Linked DNA regions of Homo sapiens: all the other regions are reported to be linked to region 5. Evidence: microRNA targets listed by miRTarBase, many of them from high-throughput screens and not tested one by one. Region 5 holds a microRNA gene; each other region holds the end of a gene's coding sequence.

The links. Region 5 holds the annotated microRNA hsa-miR-221-3p (AGCUACAUUGUCUGCUGGGUUUC, at 2,352-2,374, shown strand). A microRNA usually pairs through its seed, bases 2 to 8, with sites in the 3' UTR of a target mRNA and lowers its output. Matches are read on the target gene's strand: a 7mer-m8 pairs with bases 2 to 8, a 7mer-A1 pairs with bases 2 to 7 and ends in A, and an 8mer does both.
Region 1: miRTarBase lists DHX15 as a target of hsa-miR-221-3p. The part of its 3' UTR that is shown has no 7-base or 8-base seed match.
Region 2: miRTarBase lists UQCR10 as a target of hsa-miR-221-3p. The part of its 3' UTR that is shown has no 7-base or 8-base seed match.
Region 3: the mRNA of ZKSCAN8 is a reported target of hsa-miR-221-3p. Seed matches in the 3' UTR shown: 7mer-m8 at 915-921, 7mer-m8 at 2,788-2,794 and 7mer-m8 at 3,993-3,999.
Region 4: miRTarBase lists PCDHA1 as a target of hsa-miR-221-3p. Seed matches in the 3' UTR shown: 8mer at 3,544-3,551.
Region 6: miRTarBase lists RNF20 as a target of hsa-miR-221-3p. Seed matches in the 3' UTR shown: 7mer-A1 at 2,926-2,932.

Annotation. Positions count from the first base shown.
Region 1 is chr4:24,524,249-24,528,384 of GRCh38, reverse strand. It overlaps DHX15 (DEAH-box helicase 15), which reads left to right. Exons shown (of 14, transcript NM_001358.3): 14 at 344-910. The coding sequence ends at 461. Among named protein-coding and RNA genes, the nearest start is that of MIR573, 6.0 kb to the right of the region's middle.
Region 2 is chr22:29,769,447-29,773,446 of GRCh38, reverse strand. It overlaps UQCR10 (ubiquinol-cytochrome c reductase, complex III subunit X), which reads right to left. Exons shown (of 2, transcript NM_013387.4): 2 at 3,034-3,769. The coding sequence ends at 3,728. Among named protein-coding and RNA genes, the nearest start is that of UQCR10, 4.1 kb to the right of the region's middle.
Region 3 is chr6:28,153,584-28,157,719 of GRCh38, forward strand. ZKSCAN8 (zinc finger with KRAB and SCAN domains 8) reads left to right here. Exons shown (of 6, transcript NM_006298.4): 6 at 1-4,136. The coding sequence ends at 434. Among named protein-coding and RNA genes, the nearest start is that of ZKSCAN8, 14 kb to the left of the region's middle.
Region 4 is chr5:141,009,548-141,013,547 of GRCh38, reverse strand. It overlaps PCDHA1 (protocadherin alpha 1), which reads right to left. Exons shown (of 4, transcript NM_018900.4): 4 at 1,201-3,921. The coding sequence ends at 3,611. It overlaps PCDHA2 (protocadherin alpha 2), which reads right to left. Exons shown (of 4, transcript NM_018905.3): 4 at 1,201-3,921. The coding sequence ends at 3,611. It overlaps PCDHA3 (protocadherin alpha 3), which reads right to left. Exons shown (of 4, transcript NM_018906.3): 4 at 1,201-3,921. The coding sequence ends at 3,611. It overlaps PCDHA4 (protocadherin alpha 4), which reads right to left. Exons shown (of 4, transcript NM_018907.4): 4 at 1,201-3,921. The coding sequence ends at 3,611. It also overlaps PCDHA5, PCDHA6, PCDHA7, PCDHA8, PCDHA9 and PCDHA10, and 7 more genes. Among named protein-coding and RNA genes, the nearest start is that of PCDHB1, 40 kb to the left of the region's middle.
Region 5 is chrX:45,744,418-45,748,553 of GRCh38, reverse strand. MIR221 (microRNA 221) reads left to right here and starts at 2,288; the gene lies at 2,288-2,397. MIR222HG (miR222/221 cluster host gene) reads left to right here. Exons shown (of 2, transcript NR_170290.1): 2 at 1-3,340. It overlaps MIR222 (microRNA 222), which reads left to right and starts at 1,430; the gene lies at 1,430-1,539.
Region 6 is chr9:101,561,669-101,565,804 of GRCh38, reverse strand. RNF20 (ring finger protein 20) reads right to left here. Exons shown (of 20, transcript NM_019592.7): 19 at 3,794-3,895; 20 at 2,461-3,559. The coding sequence ends at 3,383. Among named protein-coding and RNA genes, the nearest start is that of RNF20, 30 kb to the right of the region's middle.

The DNA.
Region 1 (4,136 bases), not on the chromosome of region 5:
TGTTATATATTACTATATCCTTGGAGTGGCAAATTAATAGTGTGCCAGAGTAAAGAAATCAGTGACTTTATCTGTTATCTTTACATTAATGTATCTTGAGGGGTTTGTTATTAAGTTTATGGTAAGTCCAACATCAGAAAATTCACATCTTACTAAATAAAATACTTAACACATTTCTAAAAGTGCTATTTGTAAGGATTAGTTATTTGTATTTTTCTGAGACTTGAATTCATAGATTTGCCTTGGTTCATCAGTATATTAATGAATAATGCCTATCCTATTAACAACTCCAGTACTTCAATTAAATGTTAATTTGGAAATTTTTCTGCCCACTTCTAAACAGGTTGGTGAAAATTGCCCCTCAATATTATGACATGAGCAATTTCCCACAGTGTGAAGCAAAGAGACAGTTGGACCGCATCATTGCCAAACTTCAATCCAAGGAATATTCACAGTACTGAATTCAGTGCTTAGAACTGAAGTTATTGAGAGGACAGCTTTAAAAGATGAATGAACTCAAAAGTTCGAGTTGTGCTCTTCACGTTGGTTCGATAATGGCCTTTATTTGAAAGCTTTTTAATTTTTCTTTACAGTAAATATTCCATTCTGATTTCATAAATTAAACATTTATGCCTCCCTTTTGTGTTGACACTGTAGCTCATACTGGAAAAGTCGATCAATGTTTTGCAGTTTATTGAAAGTAGTTCTATATATAACAATGTTATAAGCATTTCTTTAGAAATGGTTGAAAATGCTTCTAAAATGTGATTATCGACCATGGTATGCATGATCGTTGTAATTGTTGACATTCCTTTTAGAAGTTGTGAAATGTTACAACTTGTGCTTATGTAGACACAATCTTCTGTCTCAGTACAGAGGCACTGACTTCAATAAAGTCTATTTATACTAATTTTGGCCAAAGCCCTTTGGTATCTTTGTTCTAGTCTCTAAGTATAGTTGTTTTTCAAGTGTGGAGCTTTTTTATTATTATAATTATACTGTTACTACATATTTAGTATCTTTCTACCAGGAGTACTCCTTAGGAAAAGTAGCTGTTAAAGCAGTATTTTTAAGAGCATGGCTTAGCGCTTTGTTAGGTTAATCAGGATGTGATCGATCTAAAAGGGGTAAAATGTGTGTAGTGATCATTTGAAACTGGACCCCAAAAGAGAGAATAATGAAAGGAGAGCTCTCTACTTGTCTTTCTTAGAGTTCCTTTCATAAGGCTCATAATTTATTAACTACATTTTTGTCAGATGTTTTTATTATACTTCTAGCTTCTCAAACACGTTTATTAGTATTAGGTAAGAGGAAAGCATATTTTAGATCTCAGTTTAACAAAATTCTTAGTGATGGAAGTTTTATGCAGTATACAAAATAATTTGTATAGTGTGTTAAAATGTACATTTGACCTTCCATTTTCTATGACAGGCAGTAGACAAGTTGAAAACTTGTCTACATTCATTTTGGAATGAAAATTGAGGTGTTTTATGTGGCCCATAAAATGTTTTTTAATCAGTTATTTTCATATGAAGACTAAATACTGTACTCATTAGTCTGGACTTCCCTCTTCTTCCCCTCCTACCTTTATAAGTTTTTAAGTGTTAAAGGAAATATATAGGTGTGTGCCTGGCATTTAAATATACTTGGTAACTAGCATGTGACTTAGGGAGTTGGGCAAGTTAACTCTTTGAAGCTAACTAGTATGCTTTTTAGTGTAGGTAGGTGTTACTAAATGATGCCTAGTGGCTTGAAAAAGTTAATGTGCCTTCTATAAGTGCCTCATTTTGTTCCCATGGAATAATTTACATGGTGGAATAATACTTCAGGTTACATTTAAATATTGGTTAGATATTCATGCAACATTAAGCATTGGCAACATTGCCAGAATGTCTTAAAGTTATGTTGAAAAAGTCTAAGTACTTGGTCAGACTGTTCTCACTGAAATGGCAGCTCTCACCAGAGGAATATTTTGCTTGTTAATTTAAGCTGCAAGTGTAGTTTGTAAGTTGTTGTGTATCTTTATAATCTGACCATCCAATTTTAAGTAGGTCTCAGAGTGGTGTAACGTATTATTTAATCTTGGGCTGTGTAAAATGTGAAGTTAGACCATTAGGTTTTCTTACAGAGAAACTGTTACGTGTTAGAGTTTTCAGATATCTAGAATAAAGTTTGGTATTTGGCAGAGCTTCTAGGAATCATGGGTGTGCATTGAGAATGGCCACATAGAAAGAGCAAGTTGAGTTTTTATCATGATGTCTATCCCCCACCATCTCCAGTTGTTCTAGCCTGCCTACATCTGACCAAAGCTGAAAATTCTTTTTTTTTTTTTTTTCTTTTTTAAAGACGGAATCTCGCTCTGCTGCCCAGGCTGGAGTGCAGTGGTGCAAACTCGGCTCACTGCAAGCTCTGCCTCCTGGGCTCACGCCATTCTCCTGCCTCAGCCTCCCGAGTTAGCTGGGACTACAGGCACCCACCACCACGCCTGGCTAATTTTTTTGTATTTTTAGTAGAGACGGGGTTTCACCATGTTAGCAAAGATGGTCTCGATCTCCTGACCTCGTGATCCGCCCGTCTCGGCCTCCCAAAGTCCTGGGATTACAGGCGTGAGCCACCTTGCTCAGCCTAAAGCTGAAGATTCTTACCATTGATGTTATTGACAAAGTTGTGGCTTTTAAAAATGGTCTTCTCTCAACCTCCTTATCTTACAAATTTGGCAGCTGAACAGCAAAGTTGTTAGTTTCCTTTGTTCACATAGAGCTATGACTATCAAATAATTTATTTGTGCTATACAACAAGAAAATTAAAAAGTTTTTTGGAGATTACCTGAAGAGGTCACCTTCCTTATCTCTCAACTTGGAATAGGTGAACTGCTTGTTGCATTATGGTATAAGGAAAGAAAGCCATCAGTAAGTAGAACCATTGACCCTGCAAATGTCAGGAAATTAACACAACTTGTGAGAAATGGGACAAAAGATGCCCTACAATAAACCAATTTAGCTAGAATCCAAAAGCATTCTATACTCAAGTTTTTTATACGGCATATGACTTAATTCTAGAATTTTAGGTTTATAAGGTACTCGCATATACTTAGAAGTAATTTTAATGGCTATCCTCCCTAACCAGATACATCAAGCAAAACAGTTCATTACCCTTGAAGGCTGCCTAATAGCTCTTAGAAATGCTAAGCTAAAGCCCTTTCTGTGTAACACCTGATTCCAGTTTTTCCTTCTAGAACATAATTAAACAAGGCCATTCTGCTACTTGATGGCCATTTAGATATTTGGAGTTAACTGTCATCTTCCCTTATTTTTAATTTAGACTGAATACCCTGGTTTTGTTTGTTTGTTTGTTTTCTTTCCTGTCAACATTTGTCTTTAACATGGTTTCCAGCTATTCTGTACATTCCTGGTTAACATCTGCCAAATACTCTGTGGATTGCAGTCAGTACTATGGTCTAAGCTGGACAGACTGCAGTTGAACTTGCTATTTCCCAAAGGACCAGGCCTACCATCACTTCTGTTACTACAATTTCAGATTACATTAACCTTTCAAGCAACCACAGCATACTTTTGTTTCATATTAATCTTAGTATAAATTTAAGGCACGTAATTATTACTTGAGAATGTTAATCTCTGTGGCTCAGGGCTGAGAAGGGACCTTCACAGACCTTGGGTCGTGTTAATCTTCGGAGACTTCACCCCACATGTTCAAATATATCCATAGCTCACATGTTCAAATATGTCCATAGCTCATTAATGACATTTAAAAAAATTAAAGGCAGGATAGGAATATCTTAATTTTAAATGTTTTCTAACAGTCTCAGAATTCTTCTAGTATGAAACCACATTATTTCAAACGCAGTTTTTATCAATGTTACATTTAAAAATGAAGTTGACAGATTTTAGTAAATGATTGCATGTAAACATTAATTTGAATTTTGCAGTTTCTTTAATATTAGAGAACATGATGAGGTGGTTTTCTGGTCTTGTGCATTTTTAGTGGTCCCTAAAAAATGGGCTATAAGGATTTCTTAGATGATTAACAGCATTTCAGAGCACGAGTCATGGTTCAGAGACAGTTTTTAAAGTTCTGCTTTATTGAGGTATAATTAACATCAACTATATAGTTTGATA
Region 2 (4,000 bases), not on the chromosome of region 5:
ACCCCAGCTACAAAACAACTGCTCTATGCCTGCTCAGGGCTTCCCAGTGTTCTCCTCTGGCACTCCCAGCCAGGAGGCACGGTTTCCAGCCAGGCTGCAAGGTCTCTAACAGCCATCAGCTCTAACCAGGAGCCAGGCATCAGCCTCCTAGCTAGGCTCTCTGCTTTTATTCCCACCCACTTCCAATCTAATTGCCCCACAGTTCCCAGAGTGAGGTTTTTATATGACAGAGCTTGTTGCTCCCTTGCTTAAGACATTTTCAGTAGTAGCTACTCATTCTAATTTTGGTAAAATCCAGATTCTTTTTTTTTTTTTTTTTTTTTTTTGAGATGGAGTCTCACTCTATCGCCCAGGCTAGAGTGCAGTGGTGAGACCTCAGCTCACTACAACCTCTGCCTCCCAGGTTCAAACGATTCTCCTGCCTCACCCTCCCAAGTAGCTGGGGTTATAGGTGCACGCCACCACGCCCCCGCTAATTTTTGTATTTTTAGTAGAGACAGGGGTTTCACCATGTTGGCCAGGCTGGTCTTGAACTCCTGACCTCAAGTGATCCACCCACCTCGGCCTCCCAAAGTGCTGGGATTGCAGGCATGAACCACTGTGCCCGGCCCAGATTCTTCACTATGACTTACCAGGTCCTGAATGATCTGGTCTCGTGTATTCTCCACCTTCAACCTCATCTACCTGGCCTGTGAGCTCCTGCAACACAGCAAGTGCTTTCCCCATATGGGCCCTAAAACCTGCTACTTCCCCTGCTTTGCCTCTAACGCCCAACGTAAGTGGCTCATCTTTATCACCTATCGGTCTCAGCTCTTCTGAGGCTTCCCTAGACCAGCTGTCACCCTGGTTAATCCCTCCCTCTCCTTGCACTGCTTCCCAGAGCCTTTGGCTCAGTCTGTAATAATACAGGATGGCTTTTAGTGTCTTCCCCATAGGAGTTTAAGCCCCACATGCTATATTACCATCATATGTCCTGCTAGCACAGTGCCTCACAGTGGCCAGCCAAACACTTGCTGAATGAATGACCAGACGTTTCTCCAACTCCTCCTCTTCACATTCCTACTGCTCCAGCCTTCCAGCAGAATCGTCTGGTTTTCTGAGTCCTTAGCCTCCATGTCTCTCTGCCAACAGTTTCTTCCATGTGCCAGCATCTGTGACTGTGCTAACTGCATTACAGCTCGTCTATTTTTTTTTTTTTTTTTGAGATGGAGTCTTGCTCTGTTGCCCAGGCTGGAGTGCAGTGATGCGATCTCTGCTCATTGCAACCTCCGCCTCCCGGGTTCACGCCGTTCTCCTGCCTCAGCCTCCCGAGTAGCTGGGACTACAGGCGCCCGCCACCACGCCCGGCTAATGTTTTTGTATTTTTAGTAGAAATGGGGTTTCACCGTGTTAGCCAGGATGGTCTCAATCTCCTGACCTCGTGATCCACCCACCTCGGCCTCACAAAGTGCTGGGATTACAGGCGTGAGCCACCACGCCCGGCCTACAGCTCCTCTATTTTTAAAAATTTAATTTAAAAACATTTTTGGCTGGGCATGGTGGCTCACGCCTGTAATCCCAACACTTTGGGAAGCCAAGGCAGGAGGATGTCTTGAGTCCAGGAGTTCGAGACCAGCCTGGGCAACATGGCAAAACCCTACCTCTACAAAAAATACAAAAAAACTAGTGGGGAGTGGTGGCGCACACCTGTAGTCCCAGCTACCTGGGAGGCTGAGGTGGGAGGATTGTTTGCACCCAGGTCGAGGCTGCATTGAGCTGAGATCAGGCCATAGCATTCCATTCTGGATGACAGAGCAAGACAGTCTTGCTGTCTCCCAGGCTGGAGTGTAGTGGCGCAATCTCGGCTCACTGTAACCTCCACTTCCCGAGTTCAAGCAATTCTCCTGCCTCAGCCTCCCGAGTAGCTGGGATTACAAGCATATGCCACCACACTCGGCTAATTTTTGTATTTTTAGTAGAGATGGGGTTTCACCATGTTGGCCAGGCTGGTCTTGAGCTCCTGACCTTAAGTGATCCGCCTGCCTTGGCCTCCCAAAGTGCTGGGATTACAGGTGTGAGACACTATGCCCAGCCAAAAATTTTTAGAGACAGGGTCTCACTCTCCCCCAGGCAGGAGTGCAGTGGCACAATCATAACTCACTGTAACCTTAACTTCTTGGCTCAAGTAATCCTCCCACCTCAGCCTCCCAAGTAGCTGGGATTATAGGCTGGTGCCACCATGCTCAGGTAATTTTAAATTTTTTTGTAGAGGCAGGGTATCTCACTATGTTGCTTAGACTGGTCTTAAACTGTTGGCCTCAAGCAATCCTCCCACCTCAGCCTCCTAAAGTGCTGGGATTACAGGCCTGCAACTCCTTTAATACTCCCAAAAATCCCACACAGTATGTTCTACTACCCCATTTTACAGATAAGGAAACCGGAGTTCAGCAAGTTCAAGTGCCTTGCCCTTGTGTATTAGTCCATTTTCACGCTGCTGATAAAGACATACCCGAGACTGGGTAATTTATAAAAAGAGGTTTAATGCATTCGCATTTCCACATGGCTGAGGAGGCCTCACAATCATGGTGGAAGGCGAAAGGCCCGTCTTACATGGCAGCAGGCAAGAGAATCAGAGCCAAGCAAAAGGGGAAACCCCTTATAAAATCATCAGATCTCGTGAGACTTATTCACTATCACGAGAACAGTGTGGGGGAACCGCTCCCATGATTCAATTATCTCCCACCGAGTCCCTCCCACAACACATGGGCACTATGGGAGCTACAATTCAAAACGAGATTTGGGTGGGGACACAGCCAAACCATATCACCTTGGTTCCCATAGCTAGAATCAGTGGAGTAAGGATTCAAACCCACCAACTAAGCACTTTTATGAACTGAACTCATCAGAGTGGAACTGTGGCAGGAGGCTGTGACCCAGAGAGGTATGACTGCTTACCAAAAGATACTCAGTAATAGGCAGAATACACCAAGCTTGTCCAACCCGTGGCCTGCAGGCTGCACGCAGCCCAGGATGGCTTTGAATGAGGCCCAAACACAAATTCTTCAACTTTATTAAAACATTATGAGATTTTTGCACAAACCATTGTTTTTTGTTTTAGCTCATCAGCTATGGTTACTGTATTTTATGTGTGGCCCAAGACAATTCTTCCAACATGGCCCAGGGAAGCCAAAGGATTGGATACCCCTGAACTATACCCTAGGGTGGGGAGTGGCTAAGACCCCTAGGCCAGGGTCTTTCCCCCAGCTGAGGCCATAGTGCTTCCCCATGGCCAAGACAGTGAGGTATTTAAGAATGGAATTACTGGCTTAGAAGCCAAAGTTGACTGTAATATCTCCAACTCTGGCTCCTGTTTTGAAAACCAGAATTCTTTGGAAGTTAATGGAAAACTCAAAATAGCAGATTCTGCCTTTGGGGTGTTTGCAGAGGGCTTTGAAGTGGTCTCAAATTACTGACAAGTGAAGATCAGGTAGAGTTAACAAAGCAACCAATGTAGAAGCAGGTCTCAAGGGCAATTCACATTTATTTCCTGAGCATGCTGACTAAACATACTTCAAACACAGCAGAAGGTAAAGAGTCTGTTTTGTAAGTAAAGCCGTTTCTTGCCAACAGCGAATGGTGGTCCATGAAGAGTACCTTGAGCATCATCTTCAAGCTGAGGCTCCAGCTCTGGGCAAACAGCTGCTGGGTGGACCTGGTCCTTCTGGCCTGGATGGGGGCCTCCAAGGAACTACTTGTTCTCATACTTGTGCTTGATGTGTTTCCACAGCTTCTGCATTTTAAAGACAAGAGCCACAAACTTTGACCTTTGCCTCTCACATTTTACAACTACTCCCACTGCCCTGGTCTCTAAAATGAGCTTGGGGGAAACACATGCCATGTCCTGATTAAAAAGATACACTTGTGGTGGGCAAACTCGAAGCAATCCTATGCTTGATGCACATTTTTTTTTTGAGACGGAGACTCGCTCTATCGCCCAGGCTGGAGTGTAGTGGCGCAATCT
Region 3 (4,136 bases), not on the chromosome of region 5:
AATGTAATGAGTGTGGGAAAGCTTTCAGTCATAGCTCACACCTCATTGGACATCAGAGAATCCACACTGGGGAGAAGCCCTATGAGTGTGATGAGTGTGGGAAAACCTTCAGGCGGAGCTCACATCTTATTGGTCATCAGAGGAGCCACACTGGGGAGAAACCCTACAAATGCAATGAGTGTGGGAGGGCCTTCAGTCAGAAGTCAGGCCTTATTGAACATCAGAGAATCCACACTGGAGAAAGACCCTATAAATGTAAAGAATGTGGGAAAGCTTTCAATGGGAACACTGGTCTCATTCAACACCTGAGAATTCACACAGGGGAGAAGCCCTACCAATGTAATGAGTGTGGGAAAGCCTTTATTCAGAGGTCAAGTCTCATTCGACATCAGAGAATCCACAGTGGTGAAAAATCTGAATCCATAAGCGTTTAGGAACAACATCAGTTAGAGTTTGAGCATTATTCAGCATTAGGGAAACCACACACTGGTGAGAGGTCTTTCAGTGTACTAAAAGGCAGAAAGGTCATCACAACTTTAGTGTCAGAATCTATAGTGGTGGCAAAGTTAGGATAGCTCTTTAGTAATTTGGGCCCAGTGCCTTGGTGAAGGTTGATTAGCTTGACTGTCTTTGAAAGTATCTGATGGAGCTCCTGATGACCTAATGTATCCTTTAGAAATTTAAAATAGCATTAGAGCAAGTTGCTTGTCATGGCTTGAAGAGCTTAACTTTGTCTTTTGGGTGAGTAGCTATAGGTTTGAGAGAGGCTGGCTACTCCTAGTTCCTGTGCTTCTTCCCATCTCCTGTGATCCCCCTCTCCCATTTATTCCCTTGAAGGTGCCCTTGTATTCCTAATCTGATCTAAGAAGCTGCTGTAGAGTCAGAAGTAGCTTCTGTGTGAAACTTATATTTGTATGTAGCTTTCTAGGAAAATTTTACAGACACTTAAAGTATTTATGCTTAAGTGTGCATTTTTTTATTCTAATATTCCTTCTAGTCAGTGGAAATTTGTATTCCCATACAAACTCAGAATGCTATATTTTTAACAGCACTCCAGCATTTTTCTTCATGTATCACCTTCACTGACTCCATTGAGTCATTGAGCATCTGTACATATCCTTCACCACCCCCAGTCCCAGCACCTGTGTCAGTAAAGAAAGTGGACACATTAGTAATGGTTATGGGAGTAATACAGAGAAAGAGGTGAGTGGAGACTCAGCCCAGCTGCTCTTGAGCTTGGATAGTTATACATTTTGGTGACTTCTGACTCTCCTTCCACCTCCCCACTGTACACTGTGGTACAGATAGTTGGCACTATCCTAGTTATGGCATCAGGTAGGAGAAGGAGACGAAGATGCTTTAGGAAGATAAAAACCTTACAAAGAATGTATACTCATCTTTTTTGGCCCATTACAATACTGCTTTCTCAGGTTCTTAACAGCCTGTGCAAACTCCCTGACTAGATGGTCTGTCACTCCTATCATTACCTTGCACCCATCTCTTTAGATGGCCTCAGCACCTCACTCGTTATTCTCCATCTGTTTCTTGCCATTAGTTTATATGACTTTAATATCCACAGTGGTAATCTAATACCTTACCTCACAGGTTTTCATTCTTTTGAACTCTGGTGCACTCCATCTGTAATCCATGTCTATAATCTACCAACAAAGATGTACTCTTAAACTCAGTATCACCAGGCACTATATTTCATCTTTGAGGCTTTTGTTATACCAAGGAATACTATATAAAGTAATGAGACTGGTTTAAAGTAACATGCCAGAACTTACGCATCCAATGTGGGTTGTCACTTGTTATTCCCAAGTACTATTATTCCATACTACTATATTCTTCCAAATATTTGGAACACTCTTAGAATTCCCATTTAATAAACCATATGAGAAAACCCTCTATTACTCTTACACTTTAGTTTTACCATTTGAGTAGCCACTTATTCACCAGAGTTGGAATTGAGAAATTTTGGGCTTTCCAAAATTAACCTTTAAACTTAAAATTGATTACATTGAGCCTATTCAGAAAAAAAATTATATAGGTTCTGATGAAAGCTTCATAATTTCACCCTGTGACTATCCTGAAAAGAAATAATAATCATTTTATGATTGATGGGCCAAAAAAAGCAATCAAAGTCTTACGTCATAGAGGACCACCTTTTGGATCATAAATTCTTTCCCTATAACATTCCTTCTCTGCCTCTCTATGGCCCACTTTGACCACTAACAACATCAGAATTATCTACATCAATTTCATTGAGCCATTGGTGAATGAAGACACCCATCACTTGTCATGTTGGTTTCCAACAGTCCTTTCGATTATCCTTTATTTTCTTATCCTCCCTTCTCTTGTTTCTTTTATTTATAAGTTACCATTCCTAGTTTCTTTGTACTTGAAATTTTAAGAAACCAGAAACAAGTAAATCTGGTTGTATCTAGATCTTTGCTCTGTGTTTCAGTTGTGCCTTACCCTCTGTAAGATACTGATTCTTCCTGGGGCCAGTATTACCTTGTATGCAAATATTACATATGATGGGTGCATTGTCAGAGGGAAAATATATGTGTATGTACACATGTGTATGTACACACACACACACACCTGCCATACACTTTAGAAGAACGCTTCTCTTCTATTCCAATAAAAAGTCCTTTTAGCAATGCAACATATTAACAAAATTGGGTGCATTCAGGGTGGTATGGCCATAGACCAGAGCAACACATTGAAATGTATACAGATGTACTAGCTAAAGTCTCTTTATGTGTCAGTATTAAGAGTAATATGTAGCCAGATTACTTAAATCTCAGAATTACTAAGCATGTGGCATAAATTTGGAGAAAATAATATGACTAGAAAAATTAGTGTTATATTGGGTGTGAGAAAAGACTGTGTCTTGAAAGAATTATCAAAGCTGATACAGCACATATACAGAATTAGCCAAATGGTATAAGACAATAGAAAAAGGCTGTGGATTCTTTGAGGACATCACTAGAAATCATTCTTTGTCTCAAGTTCACACTCTTAGCATAGAATATTATTGACTAGGCTGTATGACATTTTGAGCTCTTAACTGTGAATGGCATTCATTAAGCTCCTTTATCCTATAGATTCTATCTTTATGTTCATCTGAAATGAACTATTCATCAGTACTTTCTCCTCCCATCCTAAGCTTCTCATTTTAGGAACTGACATGATAAGGTGGTTCTTTCATAACTCTAATGCCATCCAACATAGCCCTGGGAGAGGCATGTTAGGTTTCAGAGATTTTCTCCATGGAGCAAGGTGCAGTGCTAGAATATGGTGGTTGATTCCCAAACAGAGCAGTTAACTTTACTCTTGGTTCTGAGTCTCCAAATAATAATAGCCGACGTTTATTGAGCACTTACTATGTGCCCAACCCTGTTATGCCTTTCTCAGGCTCATGATAAATGTATTAGTCTGTTCTCATGCTGCTATTAAAGACATACCTGACACTGGGTAATTTATAAAGGAAAGAGGTTTAATGGACTCAGTTCCACATGGCTGGGGACGCCTCACAATCATGGTGGAAGGCAAGGAGGAGCAAATCATGTCTTATACATGGATGGCAGCAGGCAAAGAGAGAACTTGTGCAGGGGAACTCTTTATAAAACCGTCCGATCTTGTGAGACTTATTCACTATCACAAGAACAGCACAGGAAAGTTCTGCCCCCGTGATTCAATTACCTCCCACTTGGTCCCACCCACGACACGTGGGAATTGTGGGAGCTACAATTCAAGATGAGATTTGGATGGGACACAGCCAAACCATATCAATAGGTATTATTTTATCCCCCATTTTATAAATGAGGAAACGGAGGCTTAGTTGAGTGAGCTGACCAATATCACCCAGCCAGTATGTGATAAAACTGATTCTGACCCACACAGTTTGATTCTAGAGCCTGTTCTGACTACTGTGCTAAGGTGTGTATAATGAACATGGTAATTCTAACCAGCTTTTTAAAAATATGTAGCGCTTGTCATGAGAGGTACTGGGGAAAAGAATGTGCAGTAGAGTGCAAATACATTACAATTACTGGAAAATTGGTGGAAAATGCTTTTTGGGGTTACAATTATATCATTTTTAAGTGTTGATGCTTTGTAGTACTACA
Region 4 (4,000 bases), not on the chromosome of region 5:
CTAATAGCTAAATCTCTGAAAAGGGGGTAAGGAAATGGAAGAAAAGGATTAATAAATAATAATATTTATTGAGTACTATGGTGTGCCAGACCTGCTAAAACCTTTTAAGATTACCTCACAAATCTATAAGGTCTGTATTATAATTATGACCAGTTTAGAGATGACTGAAAAACTGAGAGAAGTAGTGGTTTGCCTCAAATTCCCCATCTAGTTAGTGGCACAGCTATACCAGTTTATTTATAGAGTCCCTATAAATCCCAGTTAGCCTGGGACAGTCCCAGTTTACATCTTGAATCCTGAAGTAATAACGAATGGTGTCTCCTGTTCCATTTCAAAAGTGGACTACACAAATTATATGGTCACTCTATCTCAAGGTTTCTCAATCTTGATTTGAGACATTGACATGTTGGGCTGTAAGATCCTTTGTTATAGGGGGCTGTCCTGTGCATTGCCAGGTGTTTCACAGCATCGTTGCCCCCTACCCAGTAGATGCCAATAGCACCCTCCACTTCAAGTAATGAAAAGCAACAATGACTTCAGACGTTGCCAAATGTCCCCAGGAGGGCAAAATTGCTCCTAACTGAGAACCTACAGCATCTAAAGCTTATATTTATACAAATTTAACTACAAAAGGACAAAACAATCTATTTGTCACAGCTGAACCTATGCAGTAGTGTGGCTGGCATACACCCTGTACTCAATAAAAGTTATTTCTTTTTGTACAGATGGGATCTCGCTATGCTGCCCAGGCTGATCTTGAACTCCTGGCCTCAAGCCATCCTCTGGCCTTGGCCTTCCAAAGTTCTGAGATTACAGGCAAGAGCCACTATCCCTGACCTAAAAGTTCATTTCTTTGGGGTGTCACTTGGCTTTCCAATTGTAGAGAGGTGCAAGGGCTAAACAAGTAATGAAAAAGATGCCTAGAAGGGCTCTTGTGATAAAAATGGGTTTGTTGCAATTCTTATTAGAGAAAACTGAAATAGTGTAACTACAAAGTGACGCAGCAACCTCCTGGCTGCCCATTCTAATGATATGAAGTTTGAATCTTGATTCCACTGGGGCTTTTGCCTTAGTAATGGACATAAAAGCTAACGTGATAAGAGAGTGTTACAGTGAGTTTCATACTGCAGCAATCTTCTTCAGTATTAATTGCTTATCAGTGTTCTATTTCCTCCTATTCTTAGAAATGACCACCATTTCTTTCATACCACCATTTTCATTTATTAGCAATAACAGAGGAAATACCAATAGCACCAATTCAAAATGAATCCACATGACGTGTTTTATCCTTACAGCTGTAATAACTAGTAACTAACATGGATTGGAAAGCACTTCGCAAATGTAAAAAGTGCTGTACAGATACATTATAATTATCATCATTAATAAATTAGCCCGATTCTCCTAGTTCAAAAGGCACGTAAGGTCAGATACATGGGCTTCAGTGGGGCAAAATGATCACAACCTACAATGTAGCAATGGTTCACATGTGTTGGTAACAAGTTTTACCCCATGCAATCCTGCAGAGCTGAAGTTACACACCCTTCAAAATATGGGAGAATGAAGCTAAAAGTAGACAAGACAGTTTTTTTTTAAATTTAATGCTTTTTTTAAATAACAGACTCCTACCTCTTTTATATTAATGCCTAAATAGATAATATAATTAATCAAACTTCTAAATTGTACATTATAACAAAATTAAAATGTCTTATTTAAGGTGACAGCAAATTTTGTTACTTTCTATGAGCTGATATTTCAGATACCATTAGAATTTCAAAGCATTCTGCAACTTCAAAGAGGTCAGATTGGTAAAATTTGTGCTTGCACACCCTCATGGAATATTGTCAGTATTCATTCCAAAATTGTTACTAGAACAAAACAGCTTTATCCATTCCCTTGCCAGCAGAAGTCTTGGCACGAGATGGCTCTTGGCTGGACCATAAATAAAATTCCTTGAATCACCAGTATCTTGATTTAAGAAAGAAATTTTACTGTGTCTTTCATACACAAAAGCTGATTAACAATGGTTAAAAAAACACTACTCCACTTTTTCACAGGTGTACAAAAGGAAATATAATGGAATTACATTCAACAATAAAGCTTAAAGTTCACTCTAGGTAATAGTTGCATTAACATTCACATACACAAGCACAGAGTAAGTATATTTCAGGAGTCTTAGCATAGCATACAGCATACATATGGGAGATTGATTTCAGGTAACATCATAGGTGTTAGTAAGATTAGCAATTCAGAGTGTTATAGAAAAGGAAAACTAAACCAAAGAGAAGGTGTAGGCTAGCACACCAAGACAAGTCACAGAATTAGTAGATTGAAAAATCTGCTCACTGTATGAGAAAACAATATTTTTCTTCAATTTTTGGGTCTTGATATATAGTTGGTTAGAGAAGGTTGTGTATCAAAGTGCACATAATTGTTTCTTAGAAAAGAGAGAGAGAGAGAGAAAGAGAGATCATTTTATTTAGTAATACATGCAAGAGGCAGCCCCAGAGTGACCTGAAAGAGTAAAGCTGTGATTGGCAGGTGGCCGATATAATACAGATGTTTCAGGCAATTCTCTTAAAGCACTTCTGTAGCAGCAATGATCATTTAAATGGCTGTAGACTGAATTCTCTTTTGAGGAGAGTTTAGGGGAATTGTATTCATATTTCTCTTTAAAGATTTATAGCTATAGACTTTCTCTTTTTTTAAATAAATCTATGAAACAACAAACAGCGAAAGGTGAGGTGTCGGGGTTTTCTTTTGCTTTTGCATAAGTATTGGAAAAGGATCTGGCCTTTTCATAAACATTGTGTGCAAAAGAATTTTTAATAAAGTGAGCACAGGACATGTATAGGAAACACATCAGATCTGCTTCTGTTTCCCAGGGTGGTTCTCTGTTAAAACACTGAACTGTTGGCTTGCAGGTATGATGCAGATTTTAGGTATAATGACGTCACAGCCAACAGACTTTAGGGTCTCCTAAAGCCTTGTCAGTGGGGGTAGTTTTGTCTCCTAGAGGGTGGCTGCCACCTCTTGAGTTGTAAGATTTAGAAAGTCTGGTCCCTTTAAGTTTACACTTCCCCTCCATACTGATAACTTCCGCTGTTTATTTGTCTTTGTTTTCTTGCCTTCCTTGTACCAATTAGTCTAAGCTGGCTCGTCTCAGCCAATATCTGGCACTCGCATACCCGCGGTAGCCACACATACCCAGTGGCCACAAACTCCCAAGCTGCTCAATCTCAAAACTTTTCAGCCTGCCCTGCAAGTGTCATCAAGACAGGATCCCCGGAGCACAGGGCAGAGAGTCCAACCTCTCACTGGCGGGGCTGGGAAGCCTCTCCTTTGCGGCGGAGGAGAAAGGAAACTTGGGTCTGCTTTTTAGGTTCTGAAAACAAGCCAGAGTGGAGAGAAAGAGTTAACACCAGACTTAGTAAAGCTTTTACGACAAAACCTGTTAAATGCGTTCTAGACAGACACAGGGAACTTTCTGCAGATTTCTGAGGTCTCTAAGAGGGCTCATGTAGATAGGAAAAAGGAGCAGGGAATTGCTACATGGGAGAGATTTGCCATTATTACAAAAACTGGCTAAGTGGCTTGTTTCCATTTGAGGACCTCACTGGTCACTGTTGTCAGTCGTGCTGTTCCCTTTCTCTTTTTTCTCCTGGGTCTTGTTACCCTTCTTCTTTTTCTTCTTTTTCTTGGTCTCCTCCTTTTTGCCGAAGGTTATGAAGTCACTTTTGTCAATTTGGCTGTTAGTAGGCTCCTGCCGGATGGAGATGATTGCAGGAGATCCTGGGATAATGAATTTGTCGGGCAACTCACCGGGACCGGATTGTTTGGGGTTGCCTGGTCCGTATTTAAAGGTCCAGCTGTTGCTGTTGACACCCGCACCGACTGGAGGGGACACTTCTCCTGCCTCTGGTTCTGAAAGACAAAACATTACAAATCATTAACAGGGTCAACACATGCTCTTGATGCCACACTGCTGGTAGAGTACAGGAGT
Region 5 (4,136 bases):
GATTAAATAGTTAAATCATTCCCTAGATATGTATATATTTAGAGCTCCCAGAAAGCTGGTTATCTTTTCTTATAGCTAACACATTTTTAAAAAGCCACTTTTCTCTTGGTGATAAATATGTGTGTGTCATACTGTGGTATAGCTGCATGTCCGATCAAATGGTACTAGTTTCCAATTGACAGTAGCTTTATTAAATCTTTTCTAAGTGATAGCTGAAGCATTTTAAATTCACAGCAAAGGATTCTAAGACGTGTACTTGGAGAAAAGTTGCATAGTCATTTACCTTCTAGAATAATCCTAAAAGTAGGAAACAATAATTGGCCATGTGGTCATGTGCTAATAAAAGAACACCTTGTCCAAGATACCAGGCTTTTTCCTGTTTCAGTGCTTTTTGTTCTGACTCTTGCCTCTCCCTGTGGTGTCCTTTCCCACCCCAGGTATGTACATGATTCTTCTCCTCCTACTTCAGGAATCCACTCAAATGCCAGGCCCTCAGTGAGGCTTTTCCTAGCCACCTTATCGAAAATAGCATTCCTCTTAACTGTTTCATTACTCTATGAAATGACCGTCCATATCTATGGAGGTTTTTTTCAGTCTTTTTCTACCCTTTCCTTAAATCTTAGACTTAAACTTCCGTGAGTGCAAGGATTTTGTTCAGTGTTGCATTCCCAGTGCCTGGAATAAAGCACGCAGAAGTATTTCAGTAAGGTACTGAAAGGTACTTATTGAAGGTACTCAGTAAGTATTTCTGGGGTGGATAAATGAATAGCAAAGAGAACACCAATCCTGTGACTTATTTTGTTACCTTCATTGTATCATGGGAGGAAAGCTTGGAACTGACATGCTAGTGAGCACCTGCTTTGAATATTTATTATAATATGCATTTTCTGTAATTTTCTTTGGTGTTTGAGATATTTGGTAAAATAACTGTATTATCCTCAGTTCGTAACACGAAAGAATTTTTTAACTGCAATTTACTTTACATATGTGCATCATTGCTAGATTACCCAAGTTAAAGTGACAGGAAGCAACAAAAATGCTCCAAGCCACAATAAAATGGTAGATTGGTTTTTTGTTTGCTTGTTTGTTTTTCTCTTGTGTATATTTCCATTTTACTGCAAAACATACCAAATAATTGATTGTAGATTTTGTCACAAGGAATCATGTATGCTGTAGAAGTATAGAGATTTTCCACTTTTTTTGTTTGCTGCTGGATCTCCAGCACCTAAGAAAATATGTGGCACTTTATTTAATGTCACTCAGTCAGTATCTGTTGGATAAGTAAATAAATCCAGAGGTTGTTTAAAATTACGTACATGGGAATATTGTCAAAATGTCAATTCATGATCCAAAGAAAATGTGCAATTGAAATCTGATATCTTCTTTTTTCTTCCACAGAGCCCCTCCCCAGAAGGCAAAGGATCACCCAGCTGCTGGAAGGTGTAGGTACCCTCAATGGCTCAGTAGCCAGTGTAGATCCTGTCTTTCGTAATCAGCAGCTACATCTGGCTACTGGGTCTCTGATGGCATCTTCTAGCTTCTGCTTCAGTGTCCTGAGAGAGATTATTGGGCAGTCTTTAATAATGAAAACTTTACCTTGAATTACACACACACACACACACACACACACACACACACACACACACTCACACACACACTCACACACACACAAAGAGAGAGAGAGAGAGAGAGAGAGAGAGACAGAGAGAGAGGAGAGAGTCAAGTTCTAGGGTGTTAAGTCCAACATTATCAGCTGGGGCTTGGGAACCTTCAAGGTTTTATGAATGATGAGGTCTATTTGCTTTCAATACTACAAGGGGGAGGAATCTGGATATTTATCCATGTTTTAGCTCTTACCTGTTTTTGTTTTACCTCTTTTTTTCTCTTTCCCCCCTATGAAAGGTATCATTTGGATAGATCAATCTATTCATCTATCTACCTACCTACCTATCTACCCCTACCCATCCACCCATTTATCCATCCACCCATCCATCCATCCATCCACCCACCTGCCCACGTACCTACCAGTTTATCTATCCGACCTTCCTTCCATCCAGCTTTTTCATCTCTTGACTTTTAGATGGCATTTTCAACATGATGTCATGATTAAATGATGACAACTTGATGATATGATGGTTTAAGGAAATTTTGTTGGTAGTAGGTAAGTCCCAGCATTTCTGACTGTTGGTTTTCTTTTCCTTGTGGTAGAAAAGACAAATGCCAATTTTGAAATCTTGAATGCAGTAGGCAGTTGTGTTGAAATAGTATGTGAGAATTACTTGCAAGCTGAACATCCAGGTCTGGGGCATGAACCTGGCATACAATGTAGATTTCTGTGTTCGTTAGGCAACAGCTACATTGTCTGCTGGGTTTCAGGCTACCTGGAAACATGTTCTCCATTGGCTGTCTCACCAATGCTACCCCTATAATGTTTCTGAATAACTGTTTTCCAGGAGGTATAAACCAGTGGAGTTTATCATTGAATAGAGTGCAGAGAAAGGACCGCAAGAAAGCTGATCACCTCAGCAATGAATGATTTCAATACGATTTCACCCAAATGGTCTCACACACCAGCCTAGTAAACCAGAGATAAGGTGTAATGTCATCCTTCCTTCCTTCTCCCTGCCTCAACTGTCAAAGATTGACAACTTACATGTTGTTTACTTTTTGGCTTCTATTTCTGTTCATAATTATTATCAGAAGGCATAGCACCCACAAGCCTAATCATACTGCCTTACAACCTTATTCCTCTTCATTTTGTCTTCTCACTTACCTGCAGAAACCCAGTTTATTTTTGTTCTCCCTTTACCACACCAGCCTTGTAACTGTTATGAATGACCCTCAATCTCACTGGAATCTGAATCACTCAGGAATTCAAGCAAACTGGATGTTTTAACCACTGTTCAGCTTTCTTATGGAATGACAGAGAACTTGTAAAGATAAAACACCAGTTTGCAGGAAGAAAGGAAGAGAATGGAAATTGCTTCTGGAAAATACTAGTTTTACAATATGTTTTGTTTGTCTGCTCTCTTAAATAAACTTAATCCTATAAACATTTTTTAAGAACTAGCCATTAAGACTGTTAAGTTCTCAATTATAAAGGAATAAAATGTTTTAAGGAGGATTTATTTGCCCTTGCTTATATGAACTGCATATTTTTAGTAGGAAATCATGTAATTTAAATTAGTATTGGTTAACAGATTTAACGTAGAAAATGGACATATAAAGAATACAAGGATAAATGTCTACATGTAATAATGGATGGTAGTGATATAATGCATTTTTGTCATCCCATGCTGAATTCAGTAAAAATAAAGCTAATGACTTGGAGCTTTTAAAAGATTGTACTGTTCTCTGTGTGTGTCTTTTGGCTTCCTACTCACCAATCAGTTCTATTATCTATTCTGTACCTGAGCCACTGGCTTTTGTGACCCGGGAAGAGAAAGTAATTCCACTTAAGACGTTTGACAGGCTTTTAAGAGAAATAAGTGGCTCTGTGCAACATGGTTATGTTTAATAAATCATAATTACCAAAGGGACAGTTTCTCTTCTCCCATGTCCACTCATACTTTTTTTTTTTTTTTTTTAAAGAGATGAGTTCTCATTCTGTCATTCAGGCTGGAGTGCACTGGTACAGAACTCTTGGGCTCAAGTGATCCTCTCGCCTCAGCCTCCAAAAGTGCTGGGATTACAGGCTTGAACCACCATGCCCAGTCCTCCACTCCTTACTTCTGATGTTCTTTGAGTCCCTTTGCCTATCATTAAATGAGAAGGTGTTGACAGTGGTGCCAGGTGTGAAGAACTCCCTAATTCCATTGATAAGTTTACATTTCCCTCTCAGGTACAAGTATTGGGTTGATCCTCAAAGCAAGATTGAATGTTGTGATAATATAATAAGAAAAAGACATATTTGGTCTTCACCCTCAGTTCCTGGAACAGAGCTGCTAAAACTGTCATAATTTTCTAACTAATAGAGGTGATAGCATCTTTTGTTAAAGTATTTGGTCTTAGTCCCCTGTTCCTGACACAAGAGCTTCTAAGATCCTTGGACTCTCTGGAGTGATGAGTGTCTTTCTGTATGCTAACAAGATAATGAGATGACTTGGCTTAGCGGGGAGTAGAGGTGGTGGCAAGTT
Region 6 (4,136 bases), not on the chromosome of region 5:
AACATCAGAAAAGCAGACTTCTGCAATAATGACTAATCAAAACTTTTCTGCAGATCCACTGGGACATGGGTTTATCTGGCAGTCCTCAGATAAATCTTCAAAGAACAATATGTAACGGCATTCCACATCCTAGCAAATGACAATGGGAATAAAGATGAGAGTAGCATATGCTTCCGGCAAGTGTAAGCATCACCATCCTAGTAGGTTTAGAAGACTGATGATTATTTATTGTCTAGAATCTTCACAAAATCAAATCACAGTCATCACTCTAGTGGCATGTACATTAAACTATGTGCATCAAATTCCGGCCCTTGAAGAACAAGGAAGCCTACGGATCTGGACAGAGAAAAAGGAAAAGGAATTGCAATGGAAATTCATGTAAGAAAACAATTGCAGAAACAGCTCAATACCTTTGAAAAAGATCCCTATAGTAAGTAAGAAGGTAAGATCCAAGCCATGTAGTTATGCATGCCTCAGAGCACACCTGACTTTGGTCAAAGTCACTAAGAAATTTCCAAGGTAACAATGAAAGAAAGAAAAAAGAGAGAGAGAGACCATCCCTACAAAATCTGAAATGGTTGTTGTTTGTTTTTGAGACAGGGTCTCACTGTGTCACCCAGGCTGGAGTCCATGGCATAATCACAGCTCACAGCAGCCTTAACCTCCGGTGCTCAAGCTATCCTCCCGCTGCAGTCTCCCAAGTAGCTGGGACTACAGGTGTGCACCACCACAGCCAGCTAATTTTCGAAATTTTTTGTAGAGACGGGGTCTCCCTATGTTGCCTGGGCTGGTCTCAAACTCCTGGGCTCAAGCAATCCTCCTGTCTCAGCCTCCCAAACTGCTGGGATTATAGGCGTGAGCCACTGCACCCAGCCTGAAGTGTTTTTAAGAAATGAGAAGCCTCTAGGACTTCTATAATAATCTTTGAAATTGGCATTTATAAGCATTACCTTAAAGAAATTACCCTTTAAAGTTCATATGGATCAAGGGCTGTGATTGCTAACTAGGATCCAAAAAAGCTATGAATAATGTACATACAATACAAATAAAATTTGGTATGCAGTTTGGGAGTATTCCTAAAGCGCATTCATTGACCTCTTCTGTAGTGAGAGAAGCCAACTGCCAAAAAATCACCATCATTTTTGGTTGTTATCTGAAAATGACTGTGAGAGCTCAACTTGTGTTGCCAGGACCTCAAGCCAGTTGGGATCAGGGGCTCCCTGCTCATCTCAACTAGAGGAACTTCCTCTAAATCCAACTTCCCATGGGGCTAGTGGTTTCCTCCACAACATTCCACAGGCCCTATGGTCCCCTGGTGCTGGGCAGCTGGCTTTCTCAGCCAATTGTCACAAACAGCCAACAGCCAAGCCCAAACCACCTGTTGACCAAGCAGTATATCTGCACCCAACCAACAAAGTTATGCTCAAGCTTACCCTATAAGAAGAGCAAGAAGCAAGGGGAAAGTGTCCTATTACTAAATGAAAACTCACTGTGTCCAGAAGCAGGAGCTAATCCTGTCATGATGGTTCTGTGGGGGTGGGGGTGTTTGCTGAGCAGGGGGATCAAGGGACCCATGACCTCTCTTGATGACCTAGTAAGATTCTTCAATTAGACTCATTGCTTAATTCATACCACATGACTTTGTGGAATTCAGTGCAAATCCTGCTGATTATAGCTGGTGACCACAGAAAGACACAGAATTTGCTCTTACCTGTCTTCTAGGACAGGTGGTGATCAAGAAGGATCCATTTTACACAACCCCTTGCCAGAGATTTATGAAACCTCTGGTTTGCTGGTTATTATAAAACATAATGCAGCTGGGCATGGTGGCTCACACCTGTAATCAAAACACTTTGGGAGGCCAAGGAAGGTGGATCACCTGAAGTCAGGAGTTTGAGACCAGCCTGGCCAACATGGTAAAACCCCATCTCTGCTAAAAATACAAAAATTAGCTGGACATGGTGGTGAGCACCTGTAATCCCAGCTATTCGGGAGGCTGAGGCAGGAGAATTGCTTGGACCCAGGAGGCGGAGGTGGCAGTAAGCCAAGATTGTGCCACTGCACTCCAGCCTGGGCGACAAGAGCAAAACTCCATCTCAAAAAAAAAAAAAAAAAACCCACCACATAATGCAAGAACTCTCACCCTAAAGCTAGAGGCAGCAATATGCTCCCCCAAAAAACAAATTATAGTCTCTTACCCCACCTAATGAACTATGAAAGATAACTGAGTAGTCAAATAAATTAATCTTTTAGGTATAATTTCTCCATAGAATAGACTCAATAAAAGAATTGGGAGAAAAGTGCTTCAATTAAGCAAAGATCTAAATACTCTAAACAAGGCCAACCTCTTAACCTAAGCTGATTATTTCCATGCAAGAAAATTTAATTCTATAACAGCAGATATAAAATCAACTTGTAATAATAAAGACAAAAGTTTCAAAGAAAAACCATAAACACAAATGCAAACTGAATCCTGCTTTAATTCAAGCTTGTGGAGAACAAAGTCCTACAGAAACATTCCACAGAATTTTCTGGAAAAGAGGGATCACAACAACCCTGTAAAAAGGAGACTGAGAGTAATTCATAGCTCACCAAGTTCTCTCCGTATCAAATTTCCAGAATACCCACAAGATTTCTTCACCAGCTCAGTCCTGACTCAACCTCTTCAATCTTTATTTCATTAGAAGACAAAGGGTCATATTATTTAAAATTATTCTAGTCTCAAGAAATTTAAAGACTTGAAGTAGTAGAGCATTCAAAACTTAAATAACTTTAACAAGAAAGCCAGCTGATCTTAACAAGTTACTCTGCTAGTAAATGGGAAATAGACTGAATCATCCTAGACATAATTTCATTAGGGCTGCAAACCACCCAGGGGAGAGTAGCACAATTATACCATTTTGTAATCCACATTCACAAGAAGTTTGCTACACAAATGAAGAAAACTTTGTGCCCATAGACAACTTATTTTTTAAAATATCACTCCCCAAAAGTAGCCATGTTTCCACTTTTGTTCCCTTTTCCACATCAAAAATACCAACTTGATTTCTTCAGGAGGAATGGACAATCCAAGTTTATACAGTGGGCTGGAAAAAGAAAACACTGAAAAGTCTAAAAGCACAAAATAAACAAAGCTGGGAGGGAAGACAGTAAGAGTTATTTGTTTCTAATTCATTCTGAAACCCAAGGCTTGTATTTACCAGTCCTTTCTGCTAAAGTCATCCAGCTACTGAAGAGGAGAGCCTGGAAGTAAAGTCTGGAGGAAAGGTAGTTGACTGATAAACTGTCCTACAGGTGACAGTCAAGGAGAGAAGAGGTAGAGGTTTGGTGGTTAATGAATAAGTTCCTGACTAGCCAGCTCCTCTTCTTCTCTTGACTTAGATCAACCAATGTAGATGCGATGAAAATCATTGGCACCAAAAGCAGCATTACACTTGGGACATTTGCGCTGGCGGGTGTCATAGCGTGTCTTCACACACTCAAAGCAGAAGACATGAAAACACTTAGTAAGAACAGCATCCTTTTTACGCATGTTACAGCACGGACAGGTCAAGCGTGCCTAAAAAGAAAAGATGTCAGAGTTTGAACAACCATGAAAGTTTATGATCCAAATGGCTCTCATATACTACACAACCAAGAAGAAAACCCACAAGGCACTAAAAAAAGAGCATCATTTCCCCCCAACCTCCAAAATAAACCATTCTCTGGTTACTATCATGCAAATTATTCTCCCAGTCTATTAGGCCACTTAAAGCTTTGACAAAAAACTAATCACTAAGGCATTTTTTCTAACCTTGTAATCCTTAATCTCTTCCATCAGAATCTCATCACACTTGGGTACATTGTCTGGTTTCTTTGTGGTCTCCAGCTTCCTGCGAAGTCTAGAGATGTCCTCCTGTGGCAGGATAGCATACCCATTAGACACACTTACCCAAATCTATCATTTTTGAGAAAAATAATAGACTTGAGTTTTCTGTTGTGAAAAGAGGGGACTTTCTATCCTTTTATGGTCAATTATCTTGTAGAAATGTAGAGAACTGCAAATGGCAGGATATTTTCTTTTGTTTCAGAAGAGGCAACCATAATTATATCCCCAAATTAGAATTGCATCTATTACCAATTCAGTCCTGTGAAAA